3 linked regions of the Homo sapiens genome follow. The protein of the gene in region 2 interacts with the protein of the main gene of each other region in a pairwise test. Each region holds a gene or a part of one and is shown on either strand. Other genes may lie near its edges.

Region 1 (7,292 bases), on a different chromosome or scaffold from region 2:
GTGTGGGCACCGTCATAGAAAACTATCGAAAAGGAGAGTGAAGCATTAGAGAACTGCTGAGCTTGGAGGGAACTCGGAGCTCATTTAGTCCCTTGTTCCCGAAGCTCCAAGCACAATCCGTGGTCAGCAGCATCACCCTCACCAGGGAGCTTGTTAAAATGCAGAGGCTCAGCCCCAAGAGGAACATGATGGATCAAGATTTGCATCTAAACAAGATCCCTGGGGGACTTGACTGCACGTCTTTGTTTCTGAAAAGCTGTCCTAGTCCCCAGCCCTCATCTGCATTTGGGGGAAACATGAGGAACAGAGAGGGGTGGAGTTTGTTCCAGGTCCCCCAGCCCATTAGGAGCAGGGCCTTGACAAAAAACCTGTAAGACTTTGGAAAAGGATTCAAAGCTCTCTGCGAGAGGCAGGCGTTTGCACAAAAGATGAATAAGTGCAGAAGAAATGCTCAGTGTTGCTAATTGTGTCCAACAGGGTTCAGGCAAGAAAAGAGAATCCAACTGCATTGGTTCTTGGGATTTGAATAAAGTGGCTATTTCTAGAGTTGGGGGACAAGCTTGAGGAAACCAACCAGGGACTGTTTTTCCTAAGGCTCAAGCAGCAAAGAAAAGCATCTGGGTATCCCAGCCCAAGGAGATAATAGGAGCCAAGGACAAGGCCTTATCAGGAGGGACACAGCCAACTGCCACACTTGTGATCTAGAGAAGACAGCAGGGAAAAGTGCCCTGACATCTGACCTCCTGCCATGCCACCCTCTGGCTGAACCCAAGTAGAGATGAGGAAACTGAGTCACAAAGTGCCCAAAGTCACCCCGTGGGGGAGTCAGGATTCAAATCCAGGCCATCTGGCCCCAGAGTCCATAAAGATAAACATAAGGTTTGTTTATTCCTTTGGCAATTATCTACTATTTGCTGCTCAGTATTCTAGACACTATGGATTCCAAATTCTGGGTTTTTCAAAATCTTTTCAGTAACACTTTTGTAGTGAGAATATTATCGGTGGCGAGTCCGCAACACTCCCAGCCCTTGTCTTCTCAGAGGAAAGAATTCAATTGAGAGACGCAGGCAAGTTTTAAAGCAGAGGCAAAGGTTTATTGAAAGAAGCAAAGTACAACTGAGAGATCAAGTGCCCCGCTCAACCTTTGGCTCGGGGCTTTTATACACTGGCTTGGTTCTGGGGTTTCTTCTCCTCCTTGATTCCTCCCTTCGGTGGGCTGCTGCGCCCTCCCTGCATGCGCAATGGCCTGCCAGCACTTGGGAGGGGCCGCATGCGCAGTGTGTTTACTAAGGTTGTGCGCATGCTCACTTGGGGTGATTTTCCCTTACTGGTCCGTCGCCGCAAGAAAAAGGTCATATACAAGTCAGACTCCAACATTTGCCCTTCTGCTCGACCTTACCAGGGAATTGTGGTTTGCTGGCTCCAGATGATGTCAACTATCTGTTAGGGAACTCCTCTCCCTCTTGGCGCCATTCGTGGCCACTTATCATGTCAGAGGGACAGTTTTATGATCGCCTGTCCATCATTTGATGCACTGCCATTTCTGGGGGCCCTCTCCTGCACAAGAACACAATAAACAGCCTTGTTAAAAGAGTCCCTATTTCACTGCAATAAGACTGAGTGGTGGCCAGAGTGGTAGCAGCTGTTGCTTTTGTGGAATTGGATGGACAGCCTGGTAGGAGAAAGGCCCAGGGGTTCTGACCAGCAGTGGGGTCGTGCTGCTCCCTGAGGCCTCTGCTGGGTCCTGGGCCATCAGCAGGGACCTTAGCCAGCAGTGGGCACCTGCAGGGGTGGAGGCCAGGCCTGGGCCATGTGGCAGCTCTAAGGTCCAAAGATTGCTGCTGTGGGAAATTCCCACCCCTGCAAATGACTCCCAGCCAGGGACATCCTTAAACTGCTGCCAGAGGAAGAGTGACATCTATGTCCCCATAAGATCCTTATGCTCCAGAATGTCCTCCCCCACTCTCCTCCCCTCCTGGGCAGGCTGAGGTCCAGGAAGCAAAGGCCCCTAGGCACACTGGGGATGCACCTGTGAGCCCTTTCCTGCTCCAAAGCCTCCCAAAGGCTGGCTCCTTACCCTGAGGCCTCTGCTCAGCTTGTTGCCTCCCAAGAGAACCCTGCCCTGACCAGAGTTTTGGAATGGCATCCTGCAGACCTGGACTTAAATTCCTGCTGGGTGACTGCAGCCTACATCACTTCACCCTGCCAAACCTCAGTTTCTTCATCTCAAGACAAGACTAAAATATCCACCTGGGGTTGCTGATGCAAGGATGAGAGGAGACGTGCAGCTTAACCAGCACAGCGCCTGCACATAGTAGGTGCTCAATAAATATCAGTTTCTTTCCAATTTCTGCTGGGTGCTGCAAGGATCTCAGGAAATGGAAGACTCAGCCGTGCCTGCAAGGAGCCATCAGACTGGTGGTGTGGGGACTGAGGGGAGGGACGGATGAGGATCCCAACAAACCTCAGCCCCAGTGACAGGAGCAACACGGTACAGAGGAGCAGAGAGGCCTGGACTGTGGGGTTCCCTGTGCTTAACGTGGGACATTCTGATCTTAACCTCAGTGCCTGCCAGTGCTGTTTGTGACCTATTGGGAGTCACCCTGTTAATCCCACCACATTCAGTTGGTTGAGGCCATCATGAAAACCTGCCCAATTTCAAGGGAAGGGGGCAGAAACATTACCTTTTGATGGAAGGAATATCAAAGAATTCGTGGGCATATTTTTAAAGGACCACAATTATCAAAAAGCAGAGTGGTTAATGCTGTGGTGGGGAAAGCGCAAAGGGTTCTGGGACCTCAGAGGGGACCCTTTCTAGAATCCAGAGAAGCATGGGAGTGGTCAGGGAAGGCTTCCTGGGGGTGAGGGCAAAGCAGAACTCACAAATGTAAGCAGGGCTGGGGCAAAACTCTAAAAATTAAACACAGTCTGTACTATAAATTTTGTTTTCCAGAATGAAATTTTACTATCTTTACTTACTGCGAATATATGCCCGGGACCATACCCCCAAGAAAATAAAAATTTTAGAGGCTGGGCATGGTGGCCCAAGTCTATAATCCCAGTATTTTGGAAGGCCAAGCGGGAGGCTTACTTGAGCTCAGGAGTTCGACACCAGCCTGGGCAACATAGCAAGACCTCGTCCCTACTAAAATACAAAAAATTAGCTGGACATGGTGGCTCACACCTGTAGTCCCAGCTACTTAGGGGGCTGTGGTGGGAGGATCACTTGAGCCCAGGAAGTTGAGGTTGCAGCGAGCGATGTTCATGCCACTGGACTCCTGCTTGAGCAACAGAGTAGACTTTGTCTCAAAAAATGAAAAAAGAAAAAAAAATTGTACGTATCAACAAGCAAAAACTTTTTTAACACTTATAATTCTACCCCCACAACCAGAGACAATGCCTCATGACTCCTTGCTAAATATTTTCCAGATTGTTGAACATAGAAGCCTATTTTGAACCCCCCAAAATAGAACCTTACTCTATGGTGCCATCGGAAACGGATGCCTCATGACATCCCTTTCCTTGCCAAGAAATACCTTTATTTCTGCAGCCTCACTTTAAGGGGCATGTCATAATTCATTTAACCAATGCCCTTCTGGTGGATACATGAGGTTGGGTCTCACTTCTCCTGTCCTGTTTCCCACAGCATAGCAGTGGTATCTTGGAGCAGTGATTTACTGGCACACTGACTCAATTATGTATTTAAGGGCAAGTCCCTGAAATTGAATTCCTGGGTCACAGGGCATGCAACTGTTTAAACATTTGCCAATTGCCTTCCAGAAAATTTCACCACCAGCAAGGTTTGAGAAACACTGTTTTCCCATTGGGGGAAACATTTATTTTTTAAATAAACGAGCCAATATATTTTAAAAAAGAGAGTTTGGTTGGTGCCAGATGTAGCTTCACTCTCAACCCTGCCCTCTGCTGGGGGTGAGATCTCAAGGGAGCTATGTGGCTTTTTTGAACCTCAGTTTCCTCATCTGCTAAACCAGGCCTTCCTAGCCGAGCTCTTAAGAGACTGGCTGAGATGAGGCAAGATGAACAGTGATGAATATGGGGTCTTTCTGTGGGGAGGGTGGACAGGGATGATCATAGGAGTCAGGCTTCCTCATCCACTGATCTGGGCAGTGAAAACTGGCTTCTAAGTATGACCTTATGACTTCAGTGATGTCGCAAGCAGGTTCCAGTCCCTGTGCCTCCCCTTCCCGCTCCCAGGAACCCATCCAGCCTCAGGAACTGCCCCCAGCCATCGAGCCTTGGCTACTTAAGGGACCTGGGCCCAATCCACAGCTGGGACAGTCCTGGCCCACTGCACTGGGAATCTAGGATGGGGGCCTTGGCCAGAGCCCTGCCGTCCATACTGCTGGCATTGCTGCTTACGTCCACCCCAGAGGCTCTGGGTGCCAACCCCGGCTTGGTCGCCAGGATCACCGACAAGGGACTGCAGTATGGTAAGAAGCCACATCTGCTGGCTGGACTTGGCAAACCCACGCTCCAGGCTGCTCTGGGTACAGTGGGGACAGGGAGTGGGGACACAGACCGGACCCTCTCCCTGGGGCAGTGCCACCTTCTGGGTCAGGTGGCTCTGGCTCCTATTCTGGCCTTACTGCCCACCAGCTGAGTGCCCTGGGCATGTTATTTGTGGTAGTGAGGTCCTCCACCAGCCAACAGAACACAGCTTTGCGTGCAAGTAGTTGATTTGGGAAATGATTCCAGGAAACACTGTAGGGAATCGGTACTGAGATGAGGAAGGGAGGGCAGCCAGGAGAGAGTGTGCAATTAAACCAGCCACCACCTCTGATGATGGGAACCACTCAGCTGGGAAAATTCTGCGTAAAGTTTGGAAACACATGCCTCTGAACTGGAAGTCAGAATTGTGGTCACCTCTAGAGGCAGGCAGAGACCCTGAAGGGCATGAGGGAGGTCTGCCGGGGTGCTGGAAGTTGCCATATCTTGATCCAGGTGGTGATCACATTCCTGTATAAACATTAAAAATTATTTAGCAATACCTTTAAAATTTGTGCCCGTTAGGTACTTTATGTATATTATTCCTCAATTTTAAAGAATGGGCAGGCCAGGCACAGTGGCTCACGCCTGTAATCCCAGCACTTTGGGAGGCCGAGGTGGGTGGATAGCTTCAGGCCAGGAGTTCGAGGCAAGCCTGGCCAACATGGTGAAGCCTCGCCTCTCCTAAAAATACAAAAATTAGCCAGTCTTGGTGGCAGCCAACTGTAATCCCAGCTACTTGGGAGGCTGAGGCAGGAGAATCGCTTGAACCCGGGAGGCAGAGGTTGCAGTGAGCCGAGATCATGCTGCTGCATTGCAGCCTGGGCAACAGAGGGAGACTGTCTCAAAAAAATAAATAAAAATAAAACAAAGAATGAGCAAAAGTAGGAGTATTTTTTTTTAAATACTGAAACAAAGCCTCCCGACTATCCAGGTGGCATGGGAACTGGGATATTTATACACCACAGTGATTGATTGAGGGCTTCTGGGCCGGGGGTTTGTCAACTCCCCAGCACTTCTGTCCTGTTGCATGTACCTGCTTTCTGCAGTTCCAGGACAAAAAGCCTCGGGACATACAGGCTCAGGGAGGCAGACATTGGCAGCTGGGAGTCAACTGTCACTCACTGGAAAGACTCAAGGATATGGACAGGCACTGACCACATGTCTTCTCACATCCCTAGAGCCTCAATTGCCTTACCTATTAAATGAGATAACAACATTCCCTTAGATAGGGTTGTTGGGAGCCCAGACTGGCTCGAGACAGGCAGAGGGAAATCAGGGAAGGATTCCAGGATATAGTAAAATGGAAAAGACAGTGGGAATTACCCAGGGACAAGGGGTAGCGTTCCAGGCGGAAGGACCCCAACATGTGCGTTTGCTAGAGGGAGAAGAGCAAATTGGAAAGAGGTGAAAGGGGAGGCTGCTGGTCATCTGTGTACCCATGTCTGCCTTGGGGACAGAAACCTGGGCCCCTCAGATCTCGGAACAGTGGGACCTGGTAACTGCTACTTGCATTGAAACTGTAAATCAGGGAAGTTTCTCTTTTGTTCCTTTGCACTGTGCACACACACCATGTTTATGTAACCAGTCCTCTGAGGTTGGACATTTTGGTCCTTTCCATATTTTTTTTTTTTTTGAAACGGAGTCTCACTCTGTTGCCAGGCTGGAGTGCAATGGCACAATCTCAGCTCACTGCAACCTCCGACTCCCTGGTTCAAGTGATTCTCCTGCCTCAGCCTCCCGAGTAGCTGGGATTACAGGCACATGCTACCACGCCCAGCTAATTTTTGTATTTTTAGTAGAGACAGGATTTCACTATGTTGGCCAGGATGGTCTCGATGATCCACCCGCCTCGGCCTCCCAAAGTGCTGGGATTACAGGCGTGAGCCACTGCGCCCGACCCCTTTCCATATTTTTAATAATATAAACCCTATTTGCTGTTCCAGGCATTTACTGAGTGCCTGCTGTGTGTCAGGCACCAAGCTAGGAGTGCTTGTTATCCTCACAGCCCCCTTCTTGCTTTGCAGTTTCAATGGCATGCCAATGAGGAAAGTTTAGTTTAGTTTAGTTTAGTTTAGTTTAGTTTAGTTTAGTTTTGTTTTGTTTTGTTTTGTTTGAGACAGAGTCTCACTCTGTCGCCCAGGCTAGAGTGCGGTAGTGCGATCTCGGCTCACTGCAATCTCTGCCTCCCGGGTTCAAGTGATTCTCCTGCCTCAGCCTCCTGAGTAGCTGAGACTACAGGTGCCTGCCACCATGCCCGGCTAATTTTTGTATTTTTTAGCAGAGATGAAGTTTCACCATATTGGCCAGGCTGGTCTCGAACTCCTGACCTCAGGTGATCTGCCCTCCTCGGCCTCCCAAAGTGCTGGGATTACAGGCGTGAGCCACCACGCCCAGCAAATGTATTGTTGTCATTGCTATTTGACAGATGAACAAAGTGAAGGTTGTTTGGGGACTTTGTCAAAGTCACCCAGCTAGAAAGATGCCCTCTTTCTCTAGCCCCCAGATCCTTCCAGTTTCTTCTACACAGGCCAGATGTCATGGAGAACAAGAAGGAGGACTATCCGTCCAAGCGCACAGCACTTTTGCCCTTGGGGATTTGTTGGCAAAGGCATTCCATTTCCTCATCAGTAAAATGGGCATGAACCTAACAATGCCACAGAAATGCAGGGACACCTCTGAATGTCCCTCATGCTACCTGGCACACAGAGGGGCTCATATCCTGTCATTGTACTTAATGCTAATAAGGATGTTGGCCCCTCTCTTGAGGACAGGTGGGAGCCACC
Region 2 (7,075 bases):
GGATCACGAGGTCAGGAGTTCGAGACCAGCCTGGCCAGCACAGTGAAACCCCATCTCTACTAAAAAAATACAAAAAATTAGCCAGGCATGGTGGTGTGTGCCTGTAATCCCACCTACTCGGGAGACCGAGGTAGGAGAATTGCTTGAACCCGGTAGGCGGAGGTTGCAGCAAGCTGAGATCATGCCACTACACTCCAGCCTGGGTAACACAGCGAGACTCCATCTCAAAAAAAAGAAGGAAACATCACTTCTGGGCCTGTAATCACAGCACTTGAATGGTTTTGTTGGTTGGTTGGTTGGTTTTGTTTTTTTGTTTGTTTGAGACGGAGTCTCACTCTGTTGCCCAGGCTGGAGTGCAGTGACGCAATCTTGGCTCACTGTAATCTCCGCCTTCCAGGCTCCATCAATTCTCCTGCCTCAGCCTCCTGAGTAGCTGGGATTACAGGTGTGCACCACCACGCCCGGCTAATTTTTGTATTTTTAGTAGAGACCGGGTTTCACCATGTTGGTCAGGGTGGTCTTGAACTCCTGACCTCTAGTGATCCGCCTTTCTTGGCCTCCCACAGTGTTAGGATTACAGGCGTGAGCCACCGCGCCCAGACAGAATGTTTTTAAGCTCCCCAAGTGTTTCTGAGGTGCATCCTGGATTTGGAACCTGCCCCCTGTCTCTGATGGTTTTGTATTATTAATATGGGCTACTGACTCCAGCTGGATGGTAAGTATCTTGAGGGCAGGGCCCCCACCTCAAGCTTCCTTGTTGATGTCACTGTGATATCACAATGTCTGCACAAATATCATTGGATGAAAGGATTCAGAGCAACTGCCACCCAGAATGTCAGTTGCCAGGGAGCTCCAACAGAACTGAGGGACGAACAGTAGGTGCCTGAGAGCTGGCCGATCTGGTCACTCTCTCCAGTGGGCCACAGGGGCCCACTTGGTGGGCAGTCTCTGCTGCCAGCTAGGGCATCTCAGCTCAGCCCAGAGCAAAGACGTGTAGGGACATAACGCTTTCCTCAAGCTTCCTTTCCCAGGTCCAAACTTAGAGGCCCAGTTTTGGGCCTAGAATTCACTGAGGTTTGTGGCTGTTTGTCCAACAGTCACCATGGATCACCGAAGCCGACTACGGGGCACAGGCCTGAACCGAATCCCTGGGACTCAGTCCCGAGCCCCCCGAGTCCCACTCCCCTTCCACGTGCAACAGGAGGCCAGGGAAGGAGAAGACTGGGAGCGAGAGCCACCTCGTCAGAGGCCTCCTATCTATGAGCCACCAGAAAGTGAAGAGCTGCCAGATAATGTTATGGGTAAGGACACACCCTCCCTCAGCAGAAGGAGGCTGGCATCATCTTTTTCATCCTTTACCTCCAGGAAGCAGGGGCCGGGAGGCAGAAAGCAGAGTATACAGTGGGCAGAACTAGGGTGAGGGATGAGTTTGGAAAGGGGAAATTTTCTATCTGCCACAAAAGATTGTTTCACAAGGAGTAAGGATAAAATATGTGAAAGCAACTTGAAACTGAGGCTGTCTGCAATATTAGGTGTTATTTATAAAATCAGGTGTTTGCAATGTCAGTTGCTTACTGTGGGCCAGGTTCTTTGGGAAACAAAGACCTATTACACATTGATTTCAGCCCCAGACAGCCCACAGTCTAGTAGAGGAAAGACAAACTTAGGATGGTTTCTGCAGGATTCAGAAAGATAACAGGTGCTTACAGAAAACAAACTTAACATGTTCTCACTTAATTGTGGGAGCTAAAAATTAAAACAATTGAACTCATAGAGATAGAGAGTAGAAGAATGGTTACTAGAGGCTGGGAAGGGTAGTGGGGGGCTGGGGAGGAAAGTGGGGATGGTTAGTGGGTACAGAAATATAGAATGAATAAGACCTAGTATTTGATAGCACAACAGGGTGACTATAGTCAATAACAATTTAATTGTATACCCTAAAATAACTAAAAGAGTATAATTGGATTGTTTGTAACACAAATGATAAATGCTTGAGGTGATGGATAACCCATTTGCCATGATGTGATTGTTACACACTGTGTGCCTGAATCAAAATATCCCATATACCCCATAAATATATATATATACATATACATATATATATACATATACCTACTATGTAGCCACAAAAAATTTTTTTTAATTTAAAAAGAAAGATAACAAGCACTTGCAGGAGGACAGAGGGCACCCTGGGATCATACAGGCTCATGCCTGTAATCCCAGCACTTTGGGAGGCCAAGGTGGGCGGATCACAATTAGCTGGGCATGGTGGCGCGCACCTGTAATCCCAGCTACTCGGCAGGCCGAGGCAGGAGAATTACTTGAACCTGGGAGGTGGAGGTTGCAGTGAGCCGAGATTGCCACTGCACTCCAGCCTGTGCGACAGAGCGAGACTCTGTCTAAAAAAAAAAAAAAAAAAAAAAACAACCTAACACAGGGTTAAGTTGCAACATTGCCTGTTTGCCCCATAGTTCCTTTCCAGCTGGAAGAGAAGAAATGGTCTAGGGATATGGCTTTTCAGGTTAGACTTTTCTTCTCCAAGTTTTCTGGGGACCTGAAAAGGGCTCCGACTTGAGAGAGGAGTCATGGCTGTTCACAAAGATCACTGCAAGGAAAAGAATAAGAAATGTCTGTTAGAGGGATAAAACGCGAGCTATTCAGAGGCAGAAAGGTCAGTTTCCCTTTGAGGGGCGGGGGTGGCGTGGGATGAGGAGGCTTTTTGGGAGAGATGGGCGTGGAAGGATGTCTAACAAGTGCTGGCGGCGAGGGTCGTTGGCACTTCAATGGTGGGAAGACAGCCATGGGCGAAGCTTTGTGGAAGAAATAGGTGTGAAGGATGAGAAGGCCTACAACAGTGCTGAGGGCGCGAGGCCAGTCACCTGCGAAGTTTTGTGTACAAGATGGGCCCAGAAGGATGAACAGGGTCTAAAACAGTGCTGAGGGTGGGAGTGCAGAAGATCGGTCACAAGTGACGACACAAGGTGGTCTTAGTCCAGTTGGTGGACGCTCGGTGGCCTGGGCCTGCCCCCAGTGCGCAGACGCACACGGCAGGTTGCAGCGGCAAGCGGGGCGGTGCCCACGGCGGGGAGATGGGTGGGGAGGGCAGGGAAAAGGCCAGGGGTTGGGTGATGGGGTAATTGTCAGAAAAAGGAACAACACTGCTGGGAGAGTTTTCTGGTAACTTTTCAAGTCTTCATTTAAATTAAAAAAAAAAAAAGCTGTCTTTGAAACAATAGATTAGGTCACTAAAAACTGCCTGTACGCCCTTGCATGCTGGAGGAAAGTAAATGGTTAGACCTACCCTCCCTAAGTTTTTCCAGGACTTAAAAGAGCTGCAAGTAGTGCAGATCATGGCCCCGTTCACACAAATCACTTCAAGAAAAAAAATTAGTAAATGTCTATTAGATCTTGAAACTTATTCCTGTCTATCTGGAACTTGGTAACCTCTGACCAACAACTAACTCCCCATTCCTTCCCTCTCGCCTCGCCTTCCCTACTTCCCAACCTCTGGTAAGCAGCAGGGTAAATACAGTCAATAATAATGTATATTTCAAAATGAATAAGAGTAAATTTGAAATGTCTCACCATAAAAGTCATAGGTAAACAAGGCGATGGATAAGTTAATGTGATGTAATCATCCCACATTGGATACATATTTCAAAAAATCACATTGCATCCCACGAATGTATACAATTATGATTTGTCAAGTAAATATAATTTTTAAAAACGTTAAGTGACTTTTTAAAAAGCTTATTAGAAGTATAAAATGCAAGCCATTCACAAGCATATAGGTTAGATTCCGCTTGTGAGGGGCTTGTGTGCAGTGGTGAGGCTTTGTGGAAGAGATGGACGTGGAAAGATGTCTAAAACAGCGCGGAGGTCAGGAGACCTTGTCGCTGCCTTCACAGAGTTGGGCAACGCTCCCGGTCCTGGTCAGCCGCGGGACGCAGGCGCAAATGCAGGCTTGGGATGGGGGAGGTGCGGCCGGCGCCCACGTGGCGGGGCGGGGAGCAGATAGGGGGGGTAGGGGGAGGAGCTGGTCTCGCGAGGCCGCGCCCCGGTTCGCGCGGGCGTCGTGCACGCGGTTGTAGCTGCCCGGCGGCGGCAGAAGCGGCGCTCGCGCCAAGGGACGTGTTTCTGCGCTCGCGTGGTCATGGAGGCGCTGCCGCTGCTAGCCGCGACAACTCCGGACCACGGCCGCCACCGAAGGCTGCTTCTGCTGCCGCTACTGCTGTTCCTGCTGCCGGCTGGAGCTGTGCAGGGCTGGGAGACAGAGGAGAGGCCCCGGACTCGCGAAGAGGAGTGCCACTTCTACGCGGGTGGACAAGTGTACCCGGGAGAGGCATCCCGGGTATCGGTCGCCGACCACTCCCTGCACCTAAGCAAAGCGAAGAGTAGGTGGTGTCCCGCCAAAGGGTGGGAGGGGAGATTCCGGAGACACGTGTACCCCGGTTACACCCCCGGAATCTGGGCTTGGGCGGCACCCCCTGGGCTGCCTCCGGGCCCTGGGCGGGCCTGGTTCTCACCTAGGAGGGCGGGGAGGGGAATAAAGGGGAGTTCTAGCTGTGAAGAAAGGTATGGTTTCCACTGATCAGATTTTAGAAGAGGTAGTGGTTACCCCAAAAGCCGCAGCTGAGGGAAAGTGGGTGGCCCTAGTCCCGAGTTTGCATCGAGGATGTTGGGCAAACTGAAACAGTTCCTGAAACATCTCAAAGTGCCTTCAGCACATCCTGTCTTTTTCAGGTACTATTTCAGCGAAGGAAGACATTGATAGGTTGAATAATGATTCACAAAAAGTTTGATTAAACAGAAAAGTTGCTAAACACAGTGCTCGGGAGGTCAAACATTTCATTTTTCTTTCTTCCTTTTTGTTTGCATCTTACAAAGATTATTACTGAAAGCCACCTTCCCCAAAGCCTGTGTAGTTAATGGATATTCCTTATGTTTCTCAGACATGAAGAACCTATTACAGAGTGTACTTTTGAGGGAAATGGGGGAAAAGGTTAGAAGTATGCATTTGGGTTGATGATAAACCTCGTGGCAAATTTGTGTCCTGCCAATTTGGTTTTTGATTATTTGCATTTCTGTCCAGTGTACAAAGCTAATGGCCACTTTCAGGAATGACACGTCAGACGAAGTAGATACTGTGAAAGTTGTAGCCTGCTACATCTGGATGTTAAAATTAACCAAAAGTGAACAGTGGCTATAGATAAAGGCTGTCTCTTGCTTGCTATTCAGTAACCTGCTTTTCCTGCAGATCATTTGACATTCTGTAGGTGTGTAGTTGGTTTTTATGGTTCAGTTACAGCATGTTCCATGCCAGTATTCAGTGAAAAAAGTAATGCTTCAAATTCTGAATCCCTAGAGTTAAATGGAATGTTGTTATGACTTAGGATGGGTTGGTTGGGAGTGATAAATGAGAAAAACTGTTTTGTCCTCTTAAACATTTACAGTTCTTACTTGCTGAAAGTAAGTACTTTCAGTTAACCACTTTGGGACTTTTTTTTTTTTTTTATTTGAGATGAAGTCTTGCTCTGTCACCCAGGCACCCAGGCTGGAGTGCGGTCGCGCGATCTCGGCTCACTGCAACCTCCGCCGCCCGGGTTCAAGCGATTCTTCTGCCTCAGCCTCCCAGGTAGCTGGGACTACAGGCGCGCACCACCACACCCGGCTATTTTTTGTATTTTTAGTAGAGACGGGGTTTCACTATATTGGCCAGGCTGGTCTGGAACTCCTGACCTCATGATCCGCCTGCCTTGGCCTCCCAAAGTGCTGAGATTACAGGCGTGAGCCACGGTGCCCAGCCTACTTTGAGATTTTTAACAAAACCAGTCTTAAATTTTAAAATCAGTATTTCCAAGTCCCACTGGTTTTACTTGCCTGGGAAAGTATTTTAAATATGTCAGCCAGTTAAGTGTTTACTTACATTACATATATTTTCCATAGGAAACAAATCTACTTCAAAGCTTTCCCTTTACCAGCAAAACTTAACATTTTAGTTGTTTACTACATTTCTCTGTCACATGTAGGCTTATCTATAATTAAAGATACAAAGACTTTTGTTAGTAAAGACTATTATGGAGCCATTAAGGCCATATTTTCAAATAATTTTTAGTAATATCAAAAACTGTTCATAATTAATTTACTGTTTCCTTTAAGGAGAAAAAAAAGGCGGGATGCAACACGTGGCAAATTTGTGTTTAAAAAAGAACGGAAAGGCCAGGTGTGGTGGCTCACGTCTATAATTTCAGCACTTTGGGAGGCCGAGGCCATCCGATCACCTGAGGTCGGGAGTTCGAGACCAGACTGGCCAGCATGGTGAAACCCTGTGTCTACTAAAAATACAAAAATTAGCCGGGTGTGATGGCGCATACCTGTAATCCCAGCTACTGGGCAGGCTGAGGCAAGAGAATCCCTTGAACCCGGGAGGCGGAAGTTGCAGTGAGCCCAGATCACACCACTGCACTCCAGCCTGGGCGACAGACTGAGACTCTTGTCTCAAAAAAAAAAAAAGTAAATAACTAAAATTAAAAAAAATAAGACTAGAAAGACAGACATCAGAATGTTAACAGTAGTTGATGGGAGTTATGGAGAGAGAGGATTTAAGTATTCTTTGTACTTCTCTGCATTTACCAGAATCTTTATGTTAATTACATAATTTATATTCAAGACAATTTTTGTTTTTTTAATAAATGCAAGGGATTGCTTTGGGAATTCCATTTATAGATCTTAGCAAAGTAACTACCATTCTTAACCAAATATTTCCAAAATCAATTTTCAGAACAAAATTTATTTTTCAAATATGGTTTTCCCAGTATGCTAAAATCATTAAGGCGTGTCATTGTAATAGATCATTACAATTATTATAACCTCTCACTTGAGTAGCATTTTAAGTAATTTATTTAAAGTATATATAATTGAATACTCTTCTGCTGTCTATTTCTCCCTCCTGGCCTTTACCTAATCAGATCAGGATTATATATATGAGGTAGGATGCTGGCTCAAGATAAGTAATCATATGTTATATATTAATTTTTAAGAGAAATTCATGTTGTTTGTCTCTATTTTGGAGTGA
Region 3 (7,162 bases), on a different chromosome or scaffold from region 2:
TTAAGTAACAGAGGTGAAACCAAAACTCAGGTCTGGTCTCTAGGTAGCTAGATGTCCTTGGGCAAGTTATTTAACCTCAGTCCTCTAGGCTTCAGATTGCTACTTGGAAATTGAAGGGCCAGCTAATGATCTTGACTAGCTGCCTTTTTCAACTTGAATATTCTGTGATTCGATTAAGGAGACTTAATTTGTTTCCTTCTTTATTGATTCCCATTGTAACTCCAAATTAGTTTCTCATCTTACCTCTTTAAAATCTTGGATAACATTTCTCTATCTCTGAAAAAAAAAAAAAAGCATGATTCCTAGTATGCTTTCCTCACTCACGTGTACAGAGGAGTCCCAAGTAAGAACTAAACCCGTTCTCCTGGAAGATGATAACAGGTTGACCTATTTGTACCCATCTGGGCTGTCTGGAGAATTGGACCAATGACAATCCCCAGCAGCAATCCTTGATTGGCATAACTGGAAAACCAGAAACTGGTACTCATTATGAGATTTTCTGTTAGCAACACACTAACTCATTCATTCTGTAGCCACGAAAGATGTGGTTGTACTCCTGGTATTAACACTACATACAATGAATCCAAGGGTGAGGTATTAAGTGTATTTCTAACATAATTAGAAAATCCCTATTCCTTTTCTTTTTGGAGTAATGCTTCTCCCTCTTTTCAAAGGTTGAAATTTCCTTGGACCCCAACAAGTGTGTCTGGAATACAGTATTCTGGAGAAGAGGTAAAACTGAGCAAGGTTAACTCTTAGCCATGAGGAAAAGCTATGCTCCCCGTTTCCATGGAAACAGATGTTAGACTAACAATAACGTGAATGAACTATTTTGAGTAGTCATTTGAAGGCTTGCTAGCTCAGGAATTCAGGGGAGTCAGCTAGCCCTATACCCTGCTTAGATCTGTATCTATAGACACATACAAAGCAAGGCATCTCTGCAATACGAACACAGCAATCAACATAAGAAGTCAGTTCTTGCTGCCCCTGTAGCCCACTGGCCTCCTTGATGTGCTGTGACAACCCAGGACAAATCCGGAATCATTACCAGTGCATGTCCAAAAGAAAGAGGTGATTTCCTCCAGTCAGGTTTAGACCAACACCTCCGGCCAAGAGAGAGATTAGCATTACCTTCAAAAGGAAACACAACATTAACTTTAAACAGACTTGGTCTCGTAACACATCTCGGTCTCAGGTTTAAGTCCACAATCAATACAGATAAGCACTGTGTTCCTATCAAATTTCCTTCTGCTGTTATAAATTGTTTTTTTTTTTAACATTATAATGCTATCTCCCATGTCTCACTTTTGAGAAAATTCTCACATCACATTTTGTGTGTGTGTGAGTCAACCTCAAAAAATTAACTGAGTGCTTGCCAAAATATATAAATACTGTAATTTAGAACCCTGGGGATGGTCAGCTCAATAAACTTTCAATTAACCAGATTATGTTTATTTCATCAGTCCCTACCCCTCCATTGCTACAATAATTCTCCTGCCTATCATTCTACTAATGCTTTCCAAATCTTTATTATCTATAATTAGATGCCTGTGTTCTTTCATTTCCTTCCATATTTCCTCATACCAAAACCCCACCTATCCTTCAAAGCTTGCCTCCTCTGCAAAGATTCCCCTCAACCTAACCAGCTCTGCTGTTAATCTCCTTTTAGTCCTCATATTTGATTCTTTTTAGAATATTTGTGCTCTTTAAAAGTATCCCAATACATGTCTAATAAATTCTAAACACTCGGAGGAATCAAGGCTGTAAATATTTTTAAGTTGCCATATCAGAATTCTCTTTATATGGCTGGGCACGGTGGCTTACGCCTGTAACCCCAGCACTTTGGGAGGCCAAGGCAGGTGGATCACCTGAGGTCAGGAGTTCAAGACCAGCCTGGCCAACATGGTGAAACCTCATCTCTACTGAAAATACAAAAATTAGCCAAGCTTGGTGGCAGGAGCCTGTAATCCCAGCTACTTGAAAGGCTGAGGCAGGAGAATCGCTTGAACCCGGGAGGCGGAGGTTGCGGTGAGCCAAGATAGCACTATTGCAGTCCAGCCTGGGCAACAAGAGCAAAACTCCGTCTCAAAAAGACAAAAACAAAAACCAACCAAACAAAAAGAATTCTCTTTGTATAACTCAGAACAGTTAATTATGCGGCTCTGATGTGACCAGCTTGTACCTGAGGGCCTCTGGAGTGGTTAAATGCCTCTACCAAGTCCATTCTCTGCTTGGGATTGACAGAGCCATCGATGGTGGCATAAGTCAGTCCATGCTTCTTCAGGTGCAATGCTACAACTTTCAGCATGTTGGTCCACTGAGAGACAATGACACTGGAAAGAAGAATAAAATAAAAAAATACCCTAACATAGATTAAACAGACTCATCTGCAGGGCTTTAATGCCCTCATCATTCTTAAGGTTAGCTATCAAATGTTGACAAGGAAAGGCCTTCTGCTACCTAAGGGAGAAGGCACACATTTAGGTCATATCTGAAGATTATAATGCTTCCAGTTATTTCTAGGTCCTTTCTACAATTTATTTAGTGCTAAATGAAGTCAGAAAAAAATGGTAGCTAGAGTAAAGTGATGACTCCAGCCTTCTTTCATTTGGGGTCCTAGTGCTCATCCAGAAATCTGTGGTCCTGCACAAAAGGGACACACTGACCACCCTTCTTGTGCCAGCCAGAACAACAGGCTCCTCCCTGCCCCCACGCTGTCTTAATTCGAGTTCTAAATTTTTATATTGAATTATTTTATAAATAATGCAGGTGTATAGCACATATGTCAGGTATAACAAATGAGTCCTTGTATCCAAGTACTCAGCTTAAGAACGTTATCAGCACTGCTGGAGCCTCCTCACTCGCTTGCTTTTCTTTATATGCTTCTCTACTTTTAAACACTTTTTCAGATGCTTCGCTTACCCTGATCCTCTAGGGATCTCCTTTTCAATTTGTACCACAAATATTTTAATTAGAAATCACAGGGAATGTGTGCTATAACCTCAGTGCTTTCTGCTGAGCATGACTCACAGTCCTTGATTTATAACTCTTGGCAATATCAAATTTTCTCACATAATTATGACCAATACTTGGATAATGAGAAAACGCAGTTACCTCTTTTGGGATGCTGAATTTCTTTGAATTGCCTCCAATTCTGCCAACAGAGATGAAATCTGGGAAAAGGTTACATCAACATTGTATGTTTAAGCAATTCACTTTTCTCCATCTCCCCTCACCTGCCATGCGAAGCAGCCTCCTACATGGCGTCTGTGCTCTGGCCTCACCTGTCTTTATTCCACCCTCCTCTCTGCAGCCAGAAAGCTCTTTCTAAAATGTGAGTTTGTCACTTCACCCCTCTGGCTAAAGCCCTTCCATAGCTTCCCACTGAGGATAAAGGCCAAGCTCCTCAAGGCAGCTTGCCGGATTCTTGCTGCTCCAGCCTCTGCTTCTCTGGGTTCGTTTCTCACCATGCCCTCCTCAAACGACACAGCAAGCACACCAAAATTCTTCCCATAAATCACACACTGGCCATCTTGTCCATTCTGCTCCCTCTGCCTAGAACACCCTTTTGTGTCAGCTTAATGTCACTTCTTCTTGGAGGTCCTCCCAACCCCCAAAGTACAGGTTAGGTGCCCACTGCCCAAGTACTATCATAGCACCTTTTGTTTCTATTATCACGGTCCTTGTCATACTGTATATTAATTGCTTATTATCTCTTGCTTCCAGGACTTGAGACACTCCAAGGAGGCAAATATTAGGAAAGTAACTTCTCTGTTTCGGCCATGTGTGAGGGGCTGTGAGTACACACATGGCCAAAACAGAGAAGATACTCTCCTAATGTTTGCTGAAGAAGAAAGTGAAAGAGCTTTACCCACTTTATGGCCTGCTCCAAATGTTGTTGAAAAGGACCTGTCCAGACGGAGGAACCATTGTTAAAGCTTCCGAACAGGCTCCCTGGGTATTCCCCAAGAACCCTTAGGGTGCACTTGAGTCCACAGGGGAGCTGTCAGTAAGAACACGTGGGGCATGACTTTGGAGTGCAGCTGGGCTCATTCTTCCCAGCTGCTCATGTGAAAAACCTTTCAAGAGCCTCTAAGGGCCCCAGAGTTCACCCCCAGAATGCTGGAGAAGGAAGAAAACTGGGCTGTAAGTCAATCAGGAGACAAATATACAGAAGTTCTTCCTCTGTCCTCATATGGCTGGACCACTTTGGGACTCAGATTCCTCATCAGTGAAAAGAAGGACTTAGGCCAGATAAATTCTGAGGTGCCCTGAGCTCCCACATTCTAGGATGTCATTACAGTGGTCACCACATGGGGCTGCTTTCCAATCTTAACAAACATTCTGGTGCCTAGGCAGGAAGTGAGTCACAGAACTGTACCATTCAAATTAGCAGACAGAAAAGCAGCTACATCTGTTATTTAGTTAACAATAGAACAGAGACACTGATGTGCCTGGTGTCTTGGCAACTTGAGATTGTGGAAGGCGCTGTGACTCCCACATGAAAAAGCTAGCCATGGTGTTTTGAGAAAACTGCAGCAGGAGGGCTGGATTTATGGCCCACGAGCCGGGGTCAAATTCCAGTAAGAAGCCTCCTTCCCTACTTGAAACAACCGTATGTGGTTTGAACTATTAATGGACATATGTTAAGAAAACTTGTGAATAAATATTACCTGCATTTAATTAAACAAGGAACACAAATGATTAGGAATTTAAATTTTAGCCCAATAGCTCACTCTGAAGGCACTAGCATGTGTGTTCTGGCCACATGGGATGCTCTTCTTATGTTTCTCTCAGCTATCAGTGGTAAAGACCTAGGTAAATGTTTTCAAATTTTAATTAAAAGGCAGCATTCCTTTTAAAAAATAATGCCATTCCCCTGGAAGTGACCTTTCTAGTTATTAATACACTTTTTCAAAAAAAGCCTTTGAAGAGAGGTTGAGCCCAAGAACGGCAGCTTGAGATGCTAAGAGAGAAACAAGCCTCACTTTCAAGACAGGCAGGATGATGAAGCACATTCCGAGCCAGCAGACAGGCAGGATTCAGGTTACGGCATATCTAAGCCTTCCTCCAGCAGAATGTTTCTGCCTTAAAAAGCTCTGACGAAAACAGAGCAGAATGACTAATGAAGACAGAAGGCTATGTAGGAAACACTACTCACATGTGGAAGCCTTTCAAAGTCAGAGCAATTGGCGCTCGCATGTATGACACAGTCTCTAGAGTCAAGCCTTTGTTTTCCTTTTAAGCTTTCTCTAAACAAATTGCTCACTTGCATAGGCCCCGTCCCTAGCACAAACCTGGCAAGCTCCCCAGTGACCCATGACAGAAAACCCACTTCAGTGCAATGCTGGGGTTGTCCCAAATTACTCTCTCAAAGTCCCCTATGTAGTAAGGCTTTAGTGTTATCTGTGAAATAAATGAAGCTTTAAGACTGGAGGGAGAATCTGATCAGCTAGAATTTAACGGCTCTAGCTCTGCTGGCAAATGGCTGTTCCCACTTGGACAAATGAAGTGCTGTCACACAGGAAAATGTGTGAGGAATCGAAGTCTCTCGACTACTACAGAGGAGACAAAAAGTACCTTGGTGCTCTCTCGCATGCCTTCAAAAAGCTCCATCTTGAAGAAGGTGCCGTTAAGGGAAACAGTGGAAGATGGCTCTGAGTCACGGAGTTCTGACAAGGTCAAAGCACTGAGCTGTTCTTCCAGGGAAAGGACAAGACCTTCACCCTTCAGTTCCATTGGATCCAGGGCCTGAACAGACAAAAAAGGACAGGAGCAGCTGGGAGTCAAGGGAGCAAACCTTGTTACTTGTTGATGATGTTTTGATTGTTTACCACTTCACAGAGCAAAATATCTTGTAATTTGTCATCAGTAACTCCTCAAGACACCTTGATTAAAGTGTGATCTTGCAAGTTTTTTCACCACATTAAAGATAAACCAAATGATGGAACTTTTTAAAGACTTGCCAGGCAGATGACATAATCATTCTATTTTTTCCAAGCTAGAATATAATTGAGATGTTGATAATCAGAATACATTATTACAGCTCCTTAAATGAATAGAATACTCCTCTTAATTTTGGATGTGCCTCTATCCAAGGTAGGGGCAACTTTTCAGTCTGTATAACTATCTGAGTTTTTATAACTGGAACCCAAAACCCCAAAACTGCCTGAAAGCAGAAAACCCCAAGAACTAAATTAGCTTTATGACATTCTGAAGTACCAGAGCATTCACAAATGGCTTCTTTTTAAACAAAATATCATTTTCTTTTCTTAAACAGTTAATCTAAAACAAAATAAACAATAGAAATACACTATTCTTGATGCCATAGGAATTATCAAGATTAATATGAAATAAAGCAAAATAAATAAGCCCCCTTTTCTCCAACCCACCAAAAAACAAAAATAGAAAAACCGAAACAGCATTTCCTTTGATCAAGCAGACTGGATTCCAGTTGGAGGAGAGTGAAATTGACTTCTCAGGTGGCCCCTCTGGAGCACTATATGACAGCAGGCTGAGGGCTTTTCTTACCGACTTCAGTAAAGAAAGATGACAGCAACACTGGCGGAGTCTCAGCAACTGGGACAGTATGTGGACGGTGCTGGATCTCGGTGAGTCTGCTGCCTCCGAGTGTCTAGGCTCCTCAGACCCAAACTCCAGTGCCACTTCCAAGAGGGAAGACAAGCCACAGGATGGTACAGGATTTAAAAGAGAAATACGGAGAGAGCCAGGAACTACATGGGGCTACTTTAACCATGTTTGATCTCAGACTCAATAATATAGTTACAACTCACTTCTATAGGCCACTTCAATTAGGCCAAATGAAATATCGGTTTTTCCTTATAGAACTACCTGCATTTTAATAAAGCAGATTTAGGAAACAATTAAAAAGAAGCTAAATAAACACCAGATCTCGTGTTTGCAATCAGTAGATTTTACTCTGGTTTGAGGGTCTTAGTTAACGCCAAATCTCTGATACCAAGGATTCATAACCTCACATTTCTGTGTTTTACTGAATCCAAATCCCCATTTTCACCAGTCATATGTATTTATGAGAGTCCTACAGCTTACCTCTACTGAATGGATTATTAGGGCTTCTTCCAGATTGGTTGCCTCTACTTTCATGTCTTTTTAGATAGGATTGCAGAGCTGACCTGCCTCA

Evidence for each region.
Region 1: the proteins of PRDX4 (region 2) and LBP interact in binary tests that used the Homo sapiens proteins (3 or more experiments, as listed by UniProt).
Region 3: the proteins of PRDX4 (region 2) and TTF2 interact in a two-hybrid assay, tested with the Homo sapiens proteins (one study listed by BioGRID and IntAct).

What each region holds. Positions count from the first base shown.
Region 1 is NC_000020.11:38,342,190-38,349,481, forward strand, and holds the start of LBP (lipopolysaccharide-binding protein precursor), read left to right. Parts: upstream 1-4,292; 5' UTR 4,293-4,327; coding exon 4,328-4,451; intron 4,452-7,292. UniProt on the Homo sapiens protein: Plays a role in the innate immune response. Binds to the lipid A moiety of bacterial lipopolysaccharides (LPS), a glycolipid present in the outer membrane of all Gram-negative bacteria.
Region 2 is NC_000023.11:23,663,418-23,670,492, forward strand, and holds the start of PRDX4 (peroxiredoxin-4 precursor), read left to right. Parts: upstream 1-4,075; 5' UTR 4,076-4,153; coding exon 4,154-4,394; intron 4,395-7,075. UniProt on the Homo sapiens protein: Thiol-specific peroxidase that catalyzes the reduction of hydrogen peroxide and organic hydroperoxides to water and alcohols, respectively.
Region 3 is NC_000001.11:117,091,320-117,098,481, reverse strand, and holds part of TTF2 (transcription termination factor 2), read right to left. Parts: intron 7,155-7,162; coding exon 7,072-7,154; intron 6,666-7,071; coding exon 6,532-6,665; intron 5,752-6,531; coding exon 5,581-5,751; intron 3,840-5,580; exon of another isoform or gene 3,754-3,839; intron 3,174-3,753; coding exon 3,115-3,173; intron 2,334-3,114; coding exon 2,183-2,333; intron 1,132-2,182; coding exon 1,049-1,131; exon of another isoform or gene 277-1,048; coding exon of another isoform or gene 276-276; exon of another isoform or gene 244-275; intron 1-243. UniProt on the Homo sapiens protein: DsDNA-dependent ATPase which acts as a transcription termination factor by coupling ATP hydrolysis with removal of RNA polymerase II from the DNA template. May contribute to mitotic transcription repression. May also be involved in pre-mRNA splicing.